Regions from separate parts of the Homo sapiens genome. Here all the other regions are linked to region 3. Evidence: fine-mapped expression QTL. A gene starts in region 3. Each other region holds a variant in brackets. All regions are shown on one strand. Distances are from middle to middle. Region 1 overlaps CCDC69 (coiled-coil domain containing 69). Region 2 overlaps CCDC69 (coiled-coil domain containing 69). Region 3 holds the start of CCDC69 (coiled-coil domain containing 69). Region 4 overlaps LOC124901115 (a long non-coding RNA gene). Region 5 overlaps CCDC69 (coiled-coil domain containing 69).

Region 1 (4,118 bases), 28 kb before region 3:
TGGCTTTGTGAAAGACATTATTAACAGAATGAAAAAAATCACCCCACTGGCTAGGAGAAAATATGTGCAAATACAAAGAACTCTTGTCCAAAATATATAAAGATATCTCAAAACTCCACAGTAAGGACAAGCAAGTTAATTTAAATGGGAAAAAGACCTGAACACACATTTGACCAAAGAGGATATGTAGACAGCAAATAAGCACATGAGTTGTTATTGAAATGTAAATTAAACCTATGGTGAAGATTACTGCACACCTATTAGAACAGCTAAAATAAAAAACCAGTGACAGCAAGTATTGGCATGAAGTAGCAACGGTATAACTCATACATCACAGATGGTGATATAAAATAGTGGTCACTCTGGAAGACAGTTTAGCTGTTTCTCATAAAGCTAAACATACATTTATCATATGACCTATCCCACTCCTGTGTATTCACCCAAGATAAATGAAAACCTATGTCCACACAAAGCCTGCACATGAATGTTAGAACAGCTCTATTCATAATTGCCTCAAATGTCCTGCAACAGTGAATGAGTAAACAATGGAATATAACTCCACAATGAAAATGTATGAATTATTGAGATATGCAACAATTGGAATGAATGTCAAAGGCATCGTGATGCATGAAGGAAGCCAATATAAAAAATCATATTGTATTATTTCATTTATGTAATAGCCTAGAAAAGACAAAGCTACAGAGATGGAGAACAGATCAGTAATTGCCAGGGGTTAGGGTGGGAGAAGGATGTGAATACAAGGGTATTTTGAGACGGCTTTTTGGGAGTGATAAAACTGTTGTGTATCCTGATTGTGGCGATGGTTACAAGAATCTATACATGCGGCAGGGCGCGGTGGCTTACACCTGTAATCCCAGTACTTTGGGAGGCCAAGGCGGGTGGATCACGAGGTCAGGAGTTGAAGACCAGCCTGACCAAGATGGTGAAACACTGTCTCTACTAAAAATACAAAAATTAGCTGGGCATAGTGGCACGTGCCTGTAATCCCAGTTACTCGGGAGGCTCAGGCAAAGAATTGCTTGAACCCGGGAGGCGGAGGTTGCAGTGAGCCGAGATCACGCCACTGCACTCCAGCCTGGGTGACAGGGCGAGCCTCCATCTCAAAAAAAAAAAAAAAAAAAAGAATCTATACATGCATTAGAATTTATGAAAATGCACATCCCCTCAAAAAGAGTCAATTTTACTATATGATAATTTAAAAAATAAAAAAAAGACAGCAAAGGGTCATCGAATGTGGAAAATCACCACTAGTCTCTCCTGGTTATCTGTGTACCTCTCCCCATACATATAAAATGTCATATATTTCCACCATCCTGTGCTTTCATTCATTCATTATAGACTTATGTAGCACTTAGTATGTGCCAAACAATTTAAAAATAACTATAGAAGAATTCTGACTAATGGGAAAAACTCAAGACAGGCAATCTCTTCTCCCCTGGGTGTTACAGTAGGAAATTCTTCTTATTAATATATTTGTAACGCTAAAAATAATATCAAAGCAATGCTTGGAGAATAAAGTTGTTTTCCCATAAAGTCTTGTGAGGTACAGAAGGTAGATTTTAGAGATAGAGAAACTGAACCAAGATTCAAGGAGGTTGAGTGATAGCCCCAGTTCAACAGGGTATGGTATTATTAAAACACAATTCTTCGGCTGGGCGAGGTGGCTCACGCCTGTAATCTCAGCACTTTAGGAGGCCGAGGCAGGCGGATTATGAGGTCAGGAATTCGGGACCAGCCTGGCCAACATGGTGAAACCCTGTCTCTACTAAAAATACAAAAATTAGCCAGGCGTGGTTGCAGGTGCCTGTAATCCCAGCTACTCGGGAGGCTGAGGCAGAAGAATCACTTGAACCCGGGAGGCGGAGGTTACAGTGAACCGAGATCATGCCACTGCACTCCAGCCTGGGGGACAGAGTGAGACTCCATCTCAAAAAAAAAAAAAAAAAAAAACACGCACACTCACACCCACACACACACCCACACACACCCACACCCACAAAACCACAATTCTTCAATTTCCAGGCAAGGACTTTAATTCCATTTCACAATGTTTGCAATAATGTGTGCTAATGTTGCAATATGTTTCAAGATTCTTAAAATCATTCAGACCTCTGTT[C/A]TAGTTATTCCATCTGGGTAAATCTAAGGACATAATGTGAAATACCGGCAACATTATGCAAAAGCTGTTTTGAGATCTAGAGGTCTAGACTCACAAGAAATAAGGAAAGCCATGTACTTTACGGTCTTGCCTTTATAAACATTTTAGTAGCAGCATAATTACTTGGAAACATATTTGATACAATGTTAAATGAAAAGAACAGGATATACACTTTTACGTACAAAATAATCACAACCATGTGTTTTGTTGTTTTGTTTTGTTTTTTAGATGGAGTCTTGCTCTGTCACCCAGGCTGGAGTACAGTGGTGAGATCTTGGCTCACTGCAACCTCTGCCTCCCGGGTTCAAGCAATTCTCCTGCCTCAGCCTCCTCAGTATCCTGAGTAGCTGGGATTATAGGTGCACACCACCACACCAGACTAATTTTATTTTTTAGTAGAGACGGGGTTTCATCATGTTGGCCAGGCTGGTCTCGAACTCCTGACCTTGTGATACACCCGCCTCGGCCTCCCAAAGTGCTGGTATTACAGGTGTGAGCCACTGCACCCAGCCACAGCCATGTTTTAAGAAGATAAATAATTCTGGGGAAAGGCCATGCGAATACTCATGATGAAAGGAAAAATCAGTAAAGCATTTTCAAGGTCAATTTCAGTAACATCAGTAATATACATAACCTTCTCCAGAGAAGATACACAAGTCACCAAGAAGCACATGAAAAGATGCTCAACAGAATTAGGCATTAGGGAAATGCAAATCACAACCACAATGCGAAACCACTTTATGTGCACTAGGATAGCAACAGGTGTTGCAGAAAATAACAAGTGTTGAAAAGGATGTGCCACCATTGGAACTCTTGTGGGTTGCTGATGGGAACATAAAGTGGTACAGCCCCTGTGGAAAACAGTTTGGCAGTTGTTCAAAAAGTTAAGCACAGAATGATCGTATGACCCAGCAATTCTCCTGGGTGTACACCCAGGGGGAACTGAAAACAGCTGTTCAAGTAGGTGCCTGTACTAGTGGCACTATTTACAGTGGCTAAATGGTGGAGGCAGCCTAGGTGTCCATCAACTGATGATGAATGGGTAGAGTGTGGTGTGTCTGTGCAATGGCAAATTACCCAGCCGTAAAAAGAAACAAAGTGTAGATGCATGCTGCAACACAGATGAGCCCTGGAAACATTTCAAGGTGAAAACATTCCAAGGTGAAAGAAGTCAGATGTGGGTGATCATGTGGGTTATACAATCCCGTTTATATGCGTGTCCAGAATGGACAAGGCCATAGAGACAGACAGTGGATTGGTGGTTGCCAGGGGCTAGTGGTAAGATAAGAAGTGACTGCTTAGGCTGGGCACAATGGCTCATGCCTGTAATCCCAGCACTTTGGGAGGCCGAGGTGGGCGGATCACTTGAGCCCAGGAGTTTGAGATCTGCCTGGGAAACATGGCAAAACCCCATCTCTACAAAAAAATATAAAAATTAGCTGGGCATGGTGGCACGCGCCTGTAGCTACTCAGAAGGCTGAGGGGCAAGGACTGCTTGAGCCCAAGAGGCGGAGGTTGAAGTGAGCCGAGATCGTGCCACTGTACTCCAGCCTGGGCAACAGAGCGAGACCCTGTCTCAAACAAACAAACAAACAAAACAAAAAAAACAAAAACAAAACAAACAAAAAAAGTGCCTGCTCGGTGGGTGGGAGTTTCCTTTTGGGGTGATGGCACTGTGAATGTATTAAATGTCACTAATGGTAAATCTTATGTCTATTTTACCAAAATAAAAAATAGATATACATAAACTTTACCACACCAATTCTATTAGGATGTTATTCTAATGCTGAAATCATGAATGTGACAAAGATGTTATAAAACCGGGGTTGATTATGTAAGTATCATTGCTGTTATAGACAATGAGAAAAATCTTGAAATTACCTAAATGCCTAACAAAGGGACTCAGTTAAATGAACAAGGGTGCATATTGGAATGCTATGTA
Region 2 (4,118 bases), 39 kb before region 3:
AGTCCCCCCACCATTTTAATGCAGGGGTAAACTGAGGCTCTGAGCAGGCCAGGGTGGAGTGGAAACACCTAGAGGAAGTTGATAAGTCAGCAAGTCGGCAGCAGAGCTGACAAGCTGGGACCAGGGGCTGTCTCCTTTATGTCAAATGGCCAGCGTGACACAGACTGCCCCTGGGAAAGCCTCGGAACTTCTCGGATTGGGACAGAGTGCTGGGGCAGGGAGGAAATGTCTCCTCTTGCTTATTCCCTTGGCCAACTCAAGGGAAGACGCTTCTCGGGGCCTCCAAAACCCTGTGGGTGATTCCATGTAACTCAAGGCCCCAGGGCTCACTGGGCACACACCCAGGATCTCCATCTCGCTCCCACCCTCGTTCCTTCCTGGAAAAGAACTGAGAGGCTCCTGCTGTCTTCTCCAGAAAAACCTTGGAAGGAGCTGTGACTTCAGGCGTCGTGGTGGGCCCAGGCCCTGCACCCTATGTGGCGAGGAAAGAGACCTCAGTGGGAGTGACAGGGGCCAGAGGGAAGGCAGGCGAGGCATTGGCCCCAAGGACCCGGTACAACAGCTCCTCCTTCTCCTGCTGGAGCTGTCGCCGCAGCTGCACCTCCTTCTCCAGGGCCTCACGCGTGAGAAGCAGGTCTTCTGACAGCTGCCTGTGGATGCACACAGAGCCCAGGGTTGCCTACTGGGAGCAGCTGCCACAGAGACCAACCCATTCCCCCAGGAAGCCTTCCTTAGATGGACCAGCAGCCTGCTGCAGGGTCCCCACTGCCCTCCTTGTTGGCCTGTATACAAGAGGCAATTCAATCTGTTGACCAAGGAGCGGGGGCCTCACAGACAGGCAGGCAGTTCTGAGCTGCTTCAAATCTCTGCTCTACCACTTAGCTATATAATCTTGAATAAGTTATTCATTCTTCTTAAATTTCAGTCTTCTCATTTGTAAAATGGGAAGAAGAAGAATAGGACCCAGCTCTTAGAGTAATTATGAGGATTAGATGAGAAAATATGTACAGTATTCAATAAATTATGTCTGACACATGATACTAGCTCTTATTTACTAAGCCCTAAGAACTGATTCATTCCACTTAGGCCTGGTGCACTATAAATTTCCTGTTTCCTCCTCCCTATATTGGGCTTTCCCACAGAGTACACTCAGCCAGGACAGAGACAAACAGATACTAATCAAGGCATTGGGACTTTGGTTTCTGAGCAGAACTGCCCCCTTGGGTTTCTTGACTCCCAGGGAAAGAGGAGCCACATTCCCTAAATAGGCCCTGGGCCCACCTGTCAGTCCATTCCTCAGGCCCCTCTAAGACTCTCCCAGCTGGGAATTTTGGCAAAAAGGGTGGGGATGGGAGTAAAGGAGGCAGGAAGACAGCTACCTTGACAGGACCACCTGGTTGCGGCTTCGGACATGGAGGTCCTCATTTTCCTGTTGCAGGGTCGTAATTTTTTCCTCCAATATCAGATTTTTCTCTTTCTATAACAATGAGAATGAGCTCAGAAAGCTGCCAAACTCACGCTGCACGATGTGTGCTGTCACCTCCCTCTTATCTGTGGTCACTGAAAGCACTGATTCATTCTAGACTAGATGTTACATTTCATGGAGCAATAAGGTAACTTAGAAAAAAGTAAAACTAAAAAGTTAACAAAGGGCTGCGGCTTTTTGCCACAGGAGAATGGTAAAAAAAAATTACAGGCCCTACCATCTCATTTCACCATGAGTTCATGGAAGAAAGAATATGTTTTGTTCTCCAAAAGTCAGAAGGATATGATCTATATAAATAAAATTAAGTTTGTCTGTTATGTGTTTCCACAAAAATGAGCGAACAAAATCTATACGGAATGTTTGAGATGATCTGATTAAAATAAAGCCCTGTGGGTGATTCCATGTCACGTGACTCAAGCCCCCAGGGCTCCCTGGGCACACACCCTGGCTCCCCATCTCCCTCCTACCCTCTTTCCTTCCTGAGAAAAGAACGGATGGTGACATGAGATGGTAGTGCCTGTAAGACTTTTTTTTTAAACATTCTCATGTGGCAAAATTAAAAGTCAGCAGCTTTTTGTTAACTCCTTAGTTTTATTTTTTTAATTATAAGTTGTAAGGCACACAGGAGGCCAGGGAGACTTCTACAGCAACATAATCTCTGCTTAGATTCAACCCTAGGGTTTCTGAGGCTTCTGTCCTCCCGTGTTCTCAATGCTACCTGCCCTAGTGTCACCCAAGCTACAGCAACATCAGTAGCCTCAAAAGGCACAGGACTCAGATGATAAGGAGCCACTGCTTGACCCAGCCTGGCCACAGACCATGCTCAGTGGTCAGCACAGGTGGCAGGTCAAAGCTGGAGTGAACTAGGCTGGGACCTCCTCAAACCACCTCCCCTCTGCATGCTTTACAAAGGAAACACCCAGAAAGCGGGAGCCTGAGGCTGCATCCCCCAGCCACTCCCAGTCACAGACCACTGTTTCCATGAGGATCAGCC[G/A]CCTGTCCAGCTCATGAATACGCTCATTCTTCATCTCGATGACAAAGTGTAAGCTCTCCAGCTCCTGCTCCCAGAACTGGCTGGGGCTCCCATAATCCTAGACAGGGACAGAGTGACCTCATTAGGCCAGTAGGCTACCTCCCTCCTCCCCATTCTGCCAGCAACTCATTGTTGGACTTTCACAAGTCACCCACCTTCCTCTCTCAGCCCATGTTAAGTGTTTAATATGCTTTATCTCCCTGTATCCGAATATCACCTTTTGAGACATGTGCTAGCACCACAGATGAGGAGACTGTGGTTCGGACAGGTTGAGTCACTTGTGCTAAGTGGCAGGTTTGCTATGTGCACCTAGTTCTCTCTGAATCCAGAACGTGAGCACTTTACTATTCCAGATGCTGCTCTCTGGGCCTTAATTTTCCCATCGGTGAAATGGGAACTCTTTTATTTCCAGGCCCTTGTGTAGGTAAGAGTGCCAGGTCTGAGTCTTGTCCTTGAAGAGGGGCTGGTCTTTCCTGTTGCCCGGCCCTGACCTCCCTGGAGATTCAAGGAGGAAAAGCGCCCAGGGTGCTGCCACCTACCTGGATATGTTTCTTATAGTTTCGGCTCAGAATGGACTCCTCCACCCTCTTCATTTTGGCCTGGAAAGCCTCCAGCTGTGAGGTCAGTCTGTCTATGGTCTCCTGGAGCAGGGAGTGGGATGGAGACAATCAAAGCCTGCCTCATAAATGCTGTAGGTGAACTTCGCCACATCCCAGAGGGAGAACGGTTTTGGGTTCTTCAATCTGTCTTTGGCTACTCTACATGACAATGCAACATCAACATACTTCGACCACTGCTTGAGATCTACCAGCCCTTACAGTGCAGAATTGCATGCTGGGAAGAGAAAGAAAGAAGAGAAAAGAAAAGAGGAAAGAAAAGAAGACGGGAGGGGAGGGGAGGGGGACGGGAGGGGGAGGGAGATAGGGAGGGGAAGGGAGGGGGACAGAGAAGGAGAAGGAGAGGGAGGGAGAAGGAGAAGGAGAGGGAGAAGGAGAGGAGATGAAAGGAACATACCAACCCCACCTCTTGCTTTAATGCCTTTAACGGCTCCCCATACTGCAGGGAACAATGTCCTGCTATAAAAGATGGTTGTTAGCCTGGCATTCAAAACACATCCAAACCAGGCTCAATGAATTTTTCCAAGCTCACCTCTCACTGCTCCTTCTATACATCCTCTCCTGCAGCCAAACATCACAATAGTCCCCCAGCTGCAGGGTACATTCTTATCTCCAAACTGTTTCACTGCCAAGAACTTTCTCTACTTGAACCGTGACCACTACCGTTAGGCTAGAGCACAACCCCTTAAGGTGGCTCACTGGCTTCCACTCTGGCCCTTGCTCACGTTCTTAGCCTTAGTCCCCTCTCCCACTGAAACTCATACCCCAGGCATCCTGGACATCTTTCGGTTCCTCAGGTATTCCATATTTTTCCTTTTTCCTCCATGTCTTTGAACACATTGCTTTTTTTCTGCCTGAGGCACCCTTCCTACCCTTCTTTACCAAAGAATTCCAACCCATCCTTCAGACTCCAGCTTAGATCTCACTCCCTCTAGGAAATCTTTCCTGCACAGCCACATTGAGTCAGATGCTTCCCTGCATC
Region 3 (4,118 bases):
AGCCAGGCTCAACTGCACAGCTTTGCCACCAACTGGCTGTGTGACTTTGGACCCATCGTTCCTCACTGAGCCTCAGTTTCCCCGGTAAAGTGGGAAAGATTCTGCAGCTCAGCCTAACTTCCAGGGCTTCTGTGAGACTGGGCGGGATGTGAAAGCATGCTGTAAACACTCAGGGTGAGTCATGGTTATCAGAACCTAACCCCTCTGTAGCCTGAGCTCATTTTTGTCCATCCCATCCCTGGAGTCCCCCTCTCTCCCAGGGGGCTGGTAGCCTGTTGGGGATGAACTTGGGAGCTCATGCCTTCCAAGGGGTTGGCACCTGGGTGAGAAATTGGGCAGGAGCACAGCCTACAGGGATGAGAACTTTAAACAAAAACAGCCCATAAATCTTGCCATATAGGGGCAGGGGCCTGGCATGGCTGGGGCCAAGAAGGCATGCCAGGCTGTTCTCTGAGGCAACAGGAGTAAAAGATTTTACGCTAAAGTCATCAAGAAGCCACTGGAAGCACAGCGGGAGGAGGTGGAGACAAAGAACACGGAGCTAGGGGACTAGATACCTGGGTTCTGCTCTGTGTTGCTCTGTGACCTCAGTCATGCTCCTTCCCTTTTCTAGGCCTTAACCTCCTATCTGTATAGTGGGTGCGTCAGCCCAGGTAGTACCCAAAGGCCCTTTCCAACTCAGACAGGCTGTGCCAGCTTTACTTGCCCTTCAGAGCTTTGGCTGTGCCAGGGACAGGCAGGAACAGCTGGTAAGTCTCTCAGAAGGAGCAGGAGCCAAAGAACCTGTGCTTACTGTGACCTCCTCTTCCAGCTTGTGGAAGGGTCAGGCTCTTCCCCGTTTCCTCCACCTCTAGGTAGATGGAATTCACCCTTGGTCCACTTTGCAAGCTACAAGGTTGACACAGGTGCAGAGAACACAGACTCTCAGATGCTTAGGGATCATCCTGCTCATCACTCCCCATACAGGGAGAAACTGAGACCCAGGGAGACACAAGGGCTTGCTTGGGGTCACCCAGTATGTTTATGGCACCACCAGGACTTACACCCAGGGCTAATGTCTGCCTACCACTTGCTCAGTTACAAGTCTCAGCCAAGGCTCAGGTCTCTCCGCCTTGTCATCCCTGTCAGCCAGCCCCTTCCTTCTACTGATAGAGCCAAGCCTCAGTTTCCCTGTTGGAGTGAGTAAAGACATGAGGGTTTCTAGGTCAGGAGTTGGTGAGAATTTCAATCTGGTAATAAAGGGAGAGCAAGGAAAGCCAGGAGGTGTCAGAGAAGGGAGTAGAATCCTCCAGGCTAGGACTACTGTTAGGCAGAAAAACCTGTACTCAGGGCACAAGCAAAGCAGGAGCAGAGGGAGGACTAAAGTTCATTGCAAAACTATTAAACACTGTCACAGTTTGGGGCCTCTCAAGGTCTCAAGGGGGAATGATGATAAAGTTTAAGGGATCACCTAGTCCCACCTGGCTAGGGGGCAGGTAGTGGTAAGAAAAGGGGCCAGAATTTGAGGGTCCTTCTTCCCCTCTGCCTCACAGTGTCCCCTGAGGAGGCTATCTTTCTAGCTCCAGGCTCTGACCTTCTGGGCTCGTCAGACCCCAAGGGGCAGCTGGTCTCACTGCAAGAAACCTGAGAATTGTCCCCTGGGCCCTGACCCAGCTCCAAGGCCCCTTGGGGGAAGGACAGGAAGGGAGGAGAGGGCCACAGAACGCAGTAGATCTCCTCCCTCTTTGGCCCCTCCCAGCTACCCCAAGGGCAGCCCACACTCACCAGCTCTGGGGCCTGCAAGAGCCCTAAGACCAGCGCCTCAAACTTTAAAGCGTCATCACCTGGGCATATTGTTAAAAGGCAGCTTCTGTCTTGGCAAGACTGGGCCTGAGCCTGAGATTCTGCATTTCTGACAGGTCCCCAGGGATGCTGATACTGCGAGTCTGTGGAACACTCTTCGAGCAGCCCTGAGATTATCAGCCTTTAACCCCCGGGGGGAGGAAGCCGAAGGCCCAGAGAGGTCAAGTCACTTGTCCATGGCCACACAGCGAACAGCCCCAGACCGAAAGCAGAGGGCACCTGCCACAGACACACGACATCTCCCCACCCGAGGCAGCGGGAATCAGCTGCCTTTCCCTGGCCCGGGTGCCGTGTTTGTAAACTCGGCTGCTTGGTGCGGCTCGGGCCGGGGTAAAGGGCGCCTCCCAGCAGAGCCTCCCTCGTCTCTGAGCTGGCCTCTCCAGGTTCTCCGTCCGGTATCCCGGGCCGACCAGAGAGAGCCCGGGGCGCCGAGTCCTCTGCGGCGGAGCGATTCCGCACTCCCCTCTCCTCTGAAAGCAAACTTCTCCGCCGGCGCCCTTTACCTTTTTCGGGGGTTTGCAGCTGCTCAGCCTGCTGTGTCTGCAGCCCATCCTCCTCCGGGGGCTCCCGGACGCCGCTTCCCAACTCCGGGGCCCCCAGAGGAGCCTGCGATCCGGGCCCCGCTGCCCGCTCCGCGCCCGCCGGCTGGGGCTGCCGGCGAGACCCTGAAACTGAACCTGGAAGCGCTGTCTTGAGCCTGAGCTGGGGCGGCCGCCCGCCGTAAATACCCGAAGAGCGGGGCCTCAGTGTAGCCCGCAGGGCCAGCGGCGCCGCCACCAGAGGCAGGTGACCAGAATCCTTCTAAATAATAGGAAGCTCTGGTCAGGGCAGAAGAAAAGAAAACCTCAAGGAGCAACAGATGCTTTTCCGAACCCTCAGCTAAGAAAGGGCCGGGGGAAAAAATAATTAAAGCAATTATTTGATAAACTAACAACTATCATTCATTGAGGGCTGTTTTTGTCCCAGTTGTTTTATACATTTTATTTCTATTTCTTGCCATATCAGTGCAACAAAGGTATTACTTCCTCCATTTTACAGGTGAGGAAAATGGTGTTCAGAGATGCAACATGATTTGCCTAAGGTCACATGGCTAGTAAGTTACCACAGCCCAGATAGAATCCAGTTCCTTTTTTTTTTTTTTTTTTGCCGCTATCATAGTTCACTGCAGCCTCAAACTCCTGGGCTCAAGCGAGCCTCCCAGCTCAGCCTCCTGAGTAGCTGGGACTACAGAGGCTCACCACCATACCCAACCAAATTCTTTTCTTTTTTCCAGTCTGATTTTGAACGACCGCCCTCAAGCGATCCTCCCACCCTGGCCTCCCAAAGCGTTGGGATTACAGGCATGAGCCACTGCACAGAATACAGTTCTAACTCCAGAACCTAAACTTTGACTCAATGGCCTACAAATAAATCATAATACTAAGTTTATTGTATTTATTTATTTTTGAGACAGAGTCTCGCTCTATTGCCCAGGCTAGAGTGCAGTGGCACGATCTTGGCTCACTGCAACCTCTGCCTCCCAGGTTCAAGTGATTCTCCTGCCTCAGCCTCCCCAGTAGCTGGGATTACAGGCATGCACCACGACACCCAACTAATTTTTGTATTTTTAGTAGAGACAGAGTTTCACCATTTTGACCAGGCTGATCTCAAACTCCCAACCTCAGGTAATCCGCCCGCTTCGGCCTCCCAAAGTCCTGGGATCCCACACCTGGCCAATAATACTAAGTTTAATTTTAATGCCTCCTCACTTCTGGGCTGATAGTTTTTTCCACCTCACAAGCATCTGTAATATTTGACTCTATCCATCTTGGATAGATGTTATTCATCACAACAACCTCTTGAGGCAGGCCAGGTATGGTGACTATGGGACATAAAATGTCAGTGTCTAGGAAAAGGAGCTTTTGTTTATCTTCTCTTTGTTATTAGCTGAGGTTTCTGAAATGGCAATGCAGGAAAAAGATAACCAATTTTGAAAATCAGTGTGTATGCCTATTTGCGTGTATATTGGAATATTAAAGTCAGGCCCAAAACTCTTGGAAAGGTGTGCTGTGAAAACGGCTTAGAGTCATGAATGGGGAAAGAATATGAGACCTCAAAAAAATTGCTCCCTCCATAGGGTACAAAACCAATTGCAAAAGTGTGTAAGAAAGGAAACTAAGGAAACGTGTTATTAGGTTCTCAAAAGCAAGTATAATAGAGAATGGTGGCTCACAAAGTGTGATTCCCAAATCAGCAGTGTCAGCACTACCAGCCGCCTTTGTTGGAAATGCAAATTC
Region 4 (4,118 bases), 21 kb after region 3:
TTCTTGTCATAGCTAAAGTGTTTCAGTTTGATCGAGTTCTGGGAAGTCTTTAGGTTCCCTGCCTCCAGGCCCTATTCTCCTGCCTCATATGCACTTTTAACACTCAGGGCACACACACACACACACACACCCCAGGCTTTAGATACATGGCTGGTCCCCAACAACACCCATACCCACCACACACAAGCAAGACTGGTAGGTTGTACTGGGCCATATTATTTCAAGGCCCAGATCCTTGCCGTTAATAGTAAGCTGGTAATAATTTCTAGTTTTTATTTTACTTTTTTTTTTGAGACAGGGTCTCGCTCTGTCGCCCAGGCTGAAGTGCAGTGGCGCGATCACAGCTCACTGCAACCTCCACCTCCTGGGCTATGGCAGTCCTCCCATCTCAGCCTCCTGAGTAGCTTGAACTACAGATGTGCGCCGGATAATATTTGGTATTTTTTGTAGAGATGGGATCTCACCATGTTTCCCAGGCTGGTCTCAAACTCCTGGGCTCAAGTAAGCAAGCACCCACCTCTGCCCCCTAAAGTGCTGGGATTACAGGCATGAGCCACTGCACCCAGCCTAATTTCCAGTATTCTAACCAATCACTCTTAGAAGGTGAGTTCTTCAAGGACAGAGGCCTTGCTTTAATAATTGTCACTTCTATGTATGTGTGCACTTATTATATGTACGTCAGATACTTTACATCACTGTATGTCAACCTTGGCTGCACATCTTAGTCACCTGGGTTTTTGTTTTTTTTTTAAGTACCAATGGTTAGGTCCCATCTCGAGAGATTTAGATGTCTAGAGTGTGGCCTGGGGGTTGGGATTTTTAAAAGCTCACAGAGGACTGCAATGTGAGGCCCCGGCTGGGAAGCATGGCCTGATGGTCTTGACCATGTTTAATTTTTCCATTGGCTCTTTCCCCAAGTGTTTCTCGTTTCTCCCGGGGAGAGTCAAAGCCCACCTCCTCAGAGAGTTCTTATCAGACCCCTAAAGGCAACCCACCCCAATTTGTGTTACCATAACCTGATTTTTTTTGTCATCTAGTATTATTACTTGATGCTATCATCTTGTTTATTTCTTTCTTTGCTGATTGCCCTTTACTCTAGTCATAGGCGGATGGGGTGTGCCTGTGGGGGCAGGGGCAGGGCCTTTATCTTGTTCAGTAGTTGAATCGATTAGTCAATGAGTGAATAGTTTTTCACTGAGAGGTAGTTTCATTATTATCATCTTGAATCTTCATTTTGCAAATGAGAAAACTGAGGCCAGAGAGGTTAAGGCCCTGCCGAGGTTCTCTCAGCAGGAGGTGGCAGGGCCAGGGTGCAAGCCGGGGTCTACCTGATTGGGAACATGTCCCTTCCCTTCTTCCATCTTGTTTATGGTTTGGTTTCCAGTCACTGTGTCTGTGACCTTCCAGAATTTCATCCAAATTCCTTTATGTGGAGATGCCAGGTACTCTCATCTGAAAGGAATATGCCACTGAGGTGGCTGGGAGAGTTAACCTTTCACTGACTAAGGGTGTTGACCTCTTGTATTATGGTGGAGTGTGTCTGTAGGAGTCAAAAGGAGGTGGGTAATGGGGTTGAGGGGACTTGGTTGCTAGAAAGATAGACAAGGAATGATGCTGGAAGGGTCTATGCAGCCCCTTCCTATTTTCCAGTGATGCTGCAGGGCATACCATGCTGGCATTGTGGTTACCTTGAGCAACCACACAAACCTCCACCAAGGAGCAGAGCCACAGGGGCATCTCTCACCCACATCCACCAAGAAGCAGAGCCACAGGGGTGTCTCTCACCCACATGTACCAAGGAGCGCAGCCACAGGGGCATCCATCACCTACACACCCACCAAGGACCAGAGCCACGTGGGCATCTCTCATCTACACATGTACCAAGGAGCAGAGCTACATGAGCATCTCTCACCCACATCCACCAAGGAGCAGAGCCACAGCGGCATCTGTCACCCATGTCCACCTGGAGCAGAGCCACATGGCCATCTCTCATATAATCTGTAGGTTCAGCCTTAGGAGAAGTGATGTCTAGTTTCACTTCTTCTGTGTACCACTGGGCAAGTCCTCTTCCTCATGGATCTCATGAAGAGGTTGTGTTACTGGTAGAGGGTCTTGACTGCAAGTTGTCCAGATTCTTGGCATTTTGAACAAAGAAATGAACAAAACGCACAGCAAAGCAAGAAAAGAATGAAGCAATGAAAGAATGCATCC[A/G]GGCACAGTGGCTCCAGCCTGTAATCCCAGCACTTTGGGAGGCTAAGCGGGTGGATCACCTGAGGTCAGGAGTTCAAGGCCAGCCTGGCCAACTTGGCAAAACCCCATCTCCACTAAAAATTACAAAAAATTAGCCAGGCGTGGTGGTGAATGCCTATAATCCCAGCGACTTAGGAGGCTGAGGCAGGAGAATCGCTTGAACCCAGGAGGTGGAGGTTGCAGTGAGCAGAGATGGCGCCACTGCACTCCAGGCTGGGCAACAGAGAGAGCATCCGTCTCAAAAAAAAAAAAAGAATGAAAGTGGGGATTTATTGAAAATGAAAATACACTCCACAGTGTGGGAGCAGCCTGAGCAGCAGCTCAAGGGCCCCTGATACAGAATCTTCTGGGGTCCAGATACCCTCTAGAGGTTTCCTATTGGCTACTTGGTGCTCCCTTCATGTAAATGAAGTGTTGGCCCACAATCAGTCTGATCGGTTGCAGAAAGCAACCAATAGGAGGCTGAAATGTCAAAGGTCACACTCCTGTGCAAACATCTGATTGGCTGCATAAAGCAACCAGTTGGCTAGGCACAGTGGCTCAAGCACTTTGGGAGGCTGGAGACGGGCGGATCTCCTGAGGCCAAGAGTTTGAGACCAGCCTGGCCAACATGGCGAAACCCGTCTCTACTGAAAATATTTTAAAAATTAGACAGCTGTGGTGGCAGGTGCCTGTAATTCCAGCTACTCGGGGGGCTGAGGCAGAATTGCTTGAAACCGAGAGGCAGAGGCTGCAGTGATCTGAGAGTGTGCCATTGCACTCCAGGCTGTGTAACAGAGCAAGACTCCAACTCAAAAAAAAAAAAAAAAAAAAACACCAACCAATCAGAGGCACTTTTAATTTCCCATCTGCTGTGCAGACAAGGTGAGGGTTTGCAAAGGCAGTAGTCTCTGGTCCTTTTGTTACTTAGGTGTGGAAAGTTAGGGTTTTCGTTTCAGTTTAGTTCTAGGAAGTCATTGTGAAACAACCTTAGGTTCCCTTCCTCCAGACCTGTTCTCCTGCCTCATCTCATCCCTGAGAGACGTGATCCCCATAAATCTTTATGGGAGGCAGAGGGACTGATGGACTTTCTTCTGTAACTGCTTCATGCTGACTTGGGAGTAGTCCTTATCTGTTGGAGATCATGGAACTCTCTCCCTACTCTGTCTAGTGAAGATAGGGTGGCTTCTTGATGGCCAGGGGTGGTGTCTTCACTTGGAACTGGCTGGAAACCTTGTTGCATGATCATCTGAGGCTTGATAGTCTCTATGCGAGAGGAAATGAATTCGGTTAAAAGACTTAATGGGAACTTTGGGTGTGGATACCTATGCTGTCAGGAATGTTTGTTATAAAAATGTATTAAAACATTCAACTTAATTACTACAAAGGAAGTGATTCTATCCATTTGGAAGAAGGCAATTAAACTGCAAAAATAAAATAAATGACTACTATTATCCAGCCTACGGTAATTATGCAACAAAGGCACCAAGGAAAATTGGTAGGCATTTACTCATCTTTTGGCTGTCTTTTAAACAGGAACTTCAGGGCTTCCACAGGTTCACAGGTGTAGTGGCTGATGGAAACTTCAGGTTCCTGGTCCGGATCTTCTGGTATTGCTGGCTTGATCCTTGAAAGATGTACCCAATCTAATCCTTGTACTTTGATGGCAGAAGGCATAGCCAGTATTACTGAACATGGTCCCTTCCATTTGGGTTGTAATTGTTGAACAGTTGATCCCTCCTTGCGTGTTTTAACAAGTACCTTATCTCCTGGCCTGATTTAGGGTCGCTAGTTAGTTCCCAGTATGGGGAGCCTTTGAATTCCACACTTTTGTAAAGCCTGCTGAAATTGTCCTAGGTTGACTAGGTATTTTACTGGCTGTTTCTGGA
Region 5 (4,118 bases), 44 kb before region 3:
TTTTGCATTTTTTACATTGAAGGGCCCTTAAAGATCAAGCAGTCTGAATCCTTGCATTGTGCATGATTGCATGTGCAGAGAGGGAAAGATTTCTTTAATACACACAGCAAGCTAATGACAGATCTGGAACTAGGAAGTTTGTCTTCAGCATCCTCAGTCCAGGACCCCTTCCTTATGAGACAGGAAGGAGCATAGAGAATGGGGATGGGAAGAGATAGTGAGGTTTCAGGTCCCCAAGAAAGACCTCATGCTCCTGGGTGGTAATAGAGCCACTGGGAAGCAACAAATCTTTTTCCCCACATTCCCAGACCCTGAGGAGCTCTTTGTCCCTACAGATAACTACTATGAGGTGGTACAGCTGCGCACTCATCATCCAGCCTTGCTTCCCTTCCAAGTTAAAAACCCCCTGGCCCAGATGGCACTACACTGGGAGCTCCCCACTGAGGAGGTCCCAGTGGGAGACAGACATCTCCTTTGATGTGAAGAAGGGCTTCACTATTCACCAGGCCCAGGCTTCCTTGGCTGGCTCCCTCTTATGCATGGCCAGCCTAGGTGGCATGAGACAAATCTCTACCAAGTACATTCTGGTCTATATCAATTGCACATGGGTCTAGGGCTCTGGGTGGGCAGGGAAGGGGAGGATATGGGGAGATATACCTTCTTCAGGAACCTCTGGTTTCGGCTCTGTGGATTATGGAGCTCTAAACAACATCAGCTTTTGATGACTCTCTATGTAGTCAGCCGTTTTGTCCAGCCAGCCGATCAGCCATGGAACCAGCTGATACCAGCTCAGCCTTTCTATCCATTGACCTATTCACAATCAAGTCAAACTGTTCCATGCATGAATCCTCCATCAGTCAATCATTCCATCACCTACCCATACTCCATTAATTCATTTTACCCATTCATACATCTACACATCCTCTATCAATTCAACCACCTCAACCATTCACCCTCTACCCATTTAGCCATTCTGCCCATTCATTCTATTCATCCATCTCTCCATCCCTCTATCTACCATCAATTCAACAATTCTAACAATCAAGTCAACATGTTTGTCTCTAACTTCTCTACCCTCTTAACCATGGCAGACCCATCTTCCTCCCCAAAACCCACCATCCAAGCTTCAGCAACATCAGTATAACTAGGAGAAAACTTCAGTGTGACCTGCATGGTTCTGGGCCGAGCCAGAGATTGCTGTGGACCTTAGCGAGGGATATTCAGGGCAGAAGGTAAGCAGCGGGTAATGGAGGCTGTGTGTATGTGTGTACATGGTGGTGGAGTGTTGGGGCAGGGAGGTGGGAGTGAAGGATTAGTTAGGACCAAGAGCAATCATGGTGGGATGGAGCTACTGCTTGACTGGGAATCTGATAAACCTGGATTCTGGTCCCAACTCTGATGCTGCTTCTCTGAGTTACCTAGGGCAAATCACTTCCCTTTTCTGGGCCCCAGTTTTCTCATCTTTCAAATAGTAACTTCTCAGATTACTGCGTAAGAATGCATAATTTGTTCCTTTCTTAATTTAACCAAAAATGAGCACTTGCCACATGCCAGACACTGGACTAGGTACTAAGGTTATGAGGATGAGTCTAAAAGAGATGGCTTCTGCTATCTGCAAGTTTATCATCTAAGCAGGGAGAAGTGAAATATGGACAAAAGTGACCATGCAGACAATGCCAAATGATACAATGAGCATAAAACAGGGCAATGCGATAGGGTCTACCTAAGATATAGTGGTTAGGGAGTCATCTCCAAGGTGACATTCAAGCCGAGACCAGACTGGCCTCAGCCACACAAAGATGGTGCTGGAGCAAATGCTCAGGCTCTGTGGCTGGGTGTGTATGTGTAACAGGAGATGAACGTTAGCAACTGTTTCCTTGGCATCTGCTGTGAGATCAGACCTTCCCAAGTGGTGTTGGAGAGGTAGTGTTTCTTTCTTCTCAAAGAACTTACTCCCATGAAATTCAAACATCTGGAGAACGGCTGTGCTAAAAGGTATATTACCAACCTGGAGGACCTGAGGCATTTGTAAGAGGACTTCCTGGAAGAGCTGGAATTTGACAGGAGCCTTGTGGAGAGGGAGGGGGAAGATCCAGACCTGTGGTACTA[G/A]GAGAAAGAATAAGGGCGAACATGTCACACCCACATGAGACCCAGAGACTCATCTGTCCCACCACTGCCACCTGTGGAGAATGCAGGGGAGCATGTGGGCCCAGGAACTCAAGCATCATTCTTGAGACTCCCAGGAGCCATCAATGACATGTGAGCAGTGAGCTGATCTTGTATGGGTCCCAGGGAAAGAGTGGCTCAGAAAGACCCATGAGGGGCTATCACCCAGCTGGAGGCCATTTAAGAACAGTATAGGACAGGGAAACAAGGTGCTCTACAAGCTGTGATTTGACAAGATCACCACTTTCAGTAGCCCTGAAAAGGAGGCCAGTGGCACCCAGTGAGGGTGCCCTGTGGAACCCAGTGAGGGTGCCCTGTTCCCCCCGAACTTAAAACACTCTGGCTCCACCTCGCTCCAGTCATTTGTGTAGCCTGAGCTGGCACATAGCGACTTCCCGAGTTCATCTCTCCATTCCCTGCAGTGGCTGCAAGGATGTGATAAAGGTGAACTCCACAGAGGCCTTAGGCATTGGAAAGGGTAAAGGATCATTCTCCCACTTGTCAGAAGAGGAAACTGAGACCCAAGAAGGGGAAAGGAGCATACAGACGGTCAGGAGACACTGGCTTGGCTTTACCAGGATTTCCCCAACATGTTCTTTAGAAGGGTGGAATACCAGAAAGTTCCCTCCCACCCTACCTCACTTCCTCTTATAACCATTACCTGTCTTGGAGATTCAAAATACACAGGTACATGTAACAGACTCAGTGGTCGGAGTCTACCCAATTTCACTTTGCTTTTCTTAATGTTTCCAAAACACTTTTGGTAGTAAAATTCTTCCTCTTCCTCTCCTTTGAGGAGGTAGCATCCCTACAGAAGCAGAGGGCCACAAAACCCACGTTGGGAAGTACTTCCCTGGACTGAGTTACCTCTGGACACTCTTTGAGAAGGGGAGGGAAACCCAGCTTTTCTCTGCAGACTTGAGAAGCTTAACGTTTTTCACAAAGAACCTGGCCTTTAAGGTGCTCTGACACCAAGCTGAAGTGTGACCTTGGGCAAGTCACTTCTCCTTTCCCCAAAGAGATAAATGGTGCCTCTTACCTGACCCTGGTGTGTGAGTCAGAGATGCACCTGGGGCAGCTGATGGACAGTCCGTTTTTATCCCCTACCGTTGGGCCAACCACTCTACATCAGTGAACAGGCCCATGTGGTACACGGGGAGAGCCAGGTACAGCAGGAGGCAGAGGGCACCCTGTATGTGGAGGGGACCTGGGCTAGGGATGCTGGTGTCTACACCTGCTGGGCCACCAACCTTCAGGGCACTGGTTTGGCCACCACCCATGTCCACGTGACTCGAGGTCCTCGTGTCTCCTCTACCCCTTCCTAGCTCCCTCCCTGGCCACAGGCATCTGGATGTGGAGCAATAGGCAGAATCAGGGGTAGGTACCTGTGGGAACATCAGTGTTTCTGATGCCAAAGAGGGGTCCTGCAGTGCAGAAGGTGACTTCTCATTCATCCTCGCAGTCTCTCCCACCCCATCCCTCTGTTTTCACCACTTACTTCAACCTCAGCCTCACTCCAAGCCTTGGTCTATTTTGAAGGCCATCCTTTAATCCAGGCTTCACCCTAGCCCCAGGCCCCACATCCACAATTAGGGCAAAGCAAGGGCCAGTGGGGCTTTGGTGCTTGAGGAGAGTGCCCAGAACCACGAGTGGGCTACCCAGGCCCCAGATTTACTCTTCAGAGATCCCCACCATTGGCAGAAGTCCTTGTGAAGACCCACCTCCCCACCCTCCCAGAAAAACACAAAAGTCACATAAATAAGGTGCCGCATGTTCTTTTTAGTTTCCATACATCGTCTGTCCCAGAGTGAGGAGAAGTTGATCTCCTTCCCACATCCACCACAGGCTGCGTGAGGGAAGCCTGGCTCCCCACAACTTGCTCCTTCTCCAGCCCTGCCCCTCTCAATTAAAACAATGCTTTCTTTTTTCTTTTCTTTTTTTTGAGACGGAGT

Evidence for each region. PIP is the estimated chance that this variant, and not a neighbour inherited with it, causes the effect.
Region 1: its variant is fine-mapped to the expression of CCDC69 in subcutaneous fat (GTEx, PIP above 0.99). The same link has a PIP of 0.9 or more in breast, fibroblasts, liver, lung, tibial nerve and visceral fat.
Region 2: its variant is fine-mapped to the expression of CCDC69 in whole blood (TOPMed, PIP above 0.99).
Region 4: its variant is fine-mapped to the expression of CCDC69 in whole blood (INTERVAL, PIP 0.96).
Region 5: its variant is fine-mapped to the expression of CCDC69 in whole blood (TOPMed, PIP above 0.99).

What each region holds. Positions count from the first base shown.
Region 1 is chr5:151,193,769-151,197,886 of GRCh38, forward strand. The region is part of intron 4 of CCDC69 (coiled-coil domain containing 69); the gene reads right to left. Among named protein-coding and RNA genes, the nearest start is that of CCDC69, 28 kb to the right of the region's middle. The variant C/A (reference allele first, on the strand shown) is at 2,138.
Region 2 is chr5:151,182,965-151,187,082 of GRCh38, forward strand. It overlaps CCDC69 (coiled-coil domain containing 69), which reads right to left. Exons shown (of 9, transcript NM_015621.3): 6 at 3,059-3,160; 7 at 2,458-2,577; 8 at 1,380-1,477; 9 at 1-650. The coding sequence ends at 473. Among named protein-coding and RNA genes, the nearest start is that of ANXA6, 27 kb to the left of the region's middle. The variant G/A (reference allele first, on the strand shown) is at 2,481.
Region 3 is chr5:151,221,578-151,225,695 of GRCh38, forward strand. It overlaps CCDC69 (coiled-coil domain containing 69), which reads right to left and starts at 2,515. Exons shown (of 9, transcript NM_015621.3): 1 at 2,346-2,515. The coding sequence starts at 2,393. It overlaps LOC105378230 (a long non-coding RNA gene), which reads left to right. Exons shown (of 4, transcript NR_160730.1): 4 at 1,899-2,773. RefSeq lists enhancers at 298-517, 1,938-2,047, 2,068-2,267 and silencers at 2,388-2,467, 3,951-4,118.
Region 4 is chr5:151,242,598-151,246,715 of GRCh38, forward strand. It overlaps LOC124901115 (a long non-coding RNA gene), which reads right to left. Exons shown (of 3, transcript XR_007059003.1): 3 at 3,075-4,118. Among named protein-coding and RNA genes, the nearest start is that of GM2A, 8.5 kb to the right of the region's middle. The variant A/G (reference allele first, on the strand shown) is at 2,212.
Region 5 is chr5:151,177,127-151,181,244 of GRCh38, forward strand. CCDC69 (coiled-coil domain containing 69) reads right to left here. Exons shown (of 9, transcript NM_015621.3): 9 at 3,926-4,118. It also overlaps the pseudogene PDGFRL2P. Among named protein-coding and RNA genes, the nearest start is that of ANXA6, 21 kb to the left of the region's middle. The variant G/A (reference allele first, on the strand shown) is at 2,110.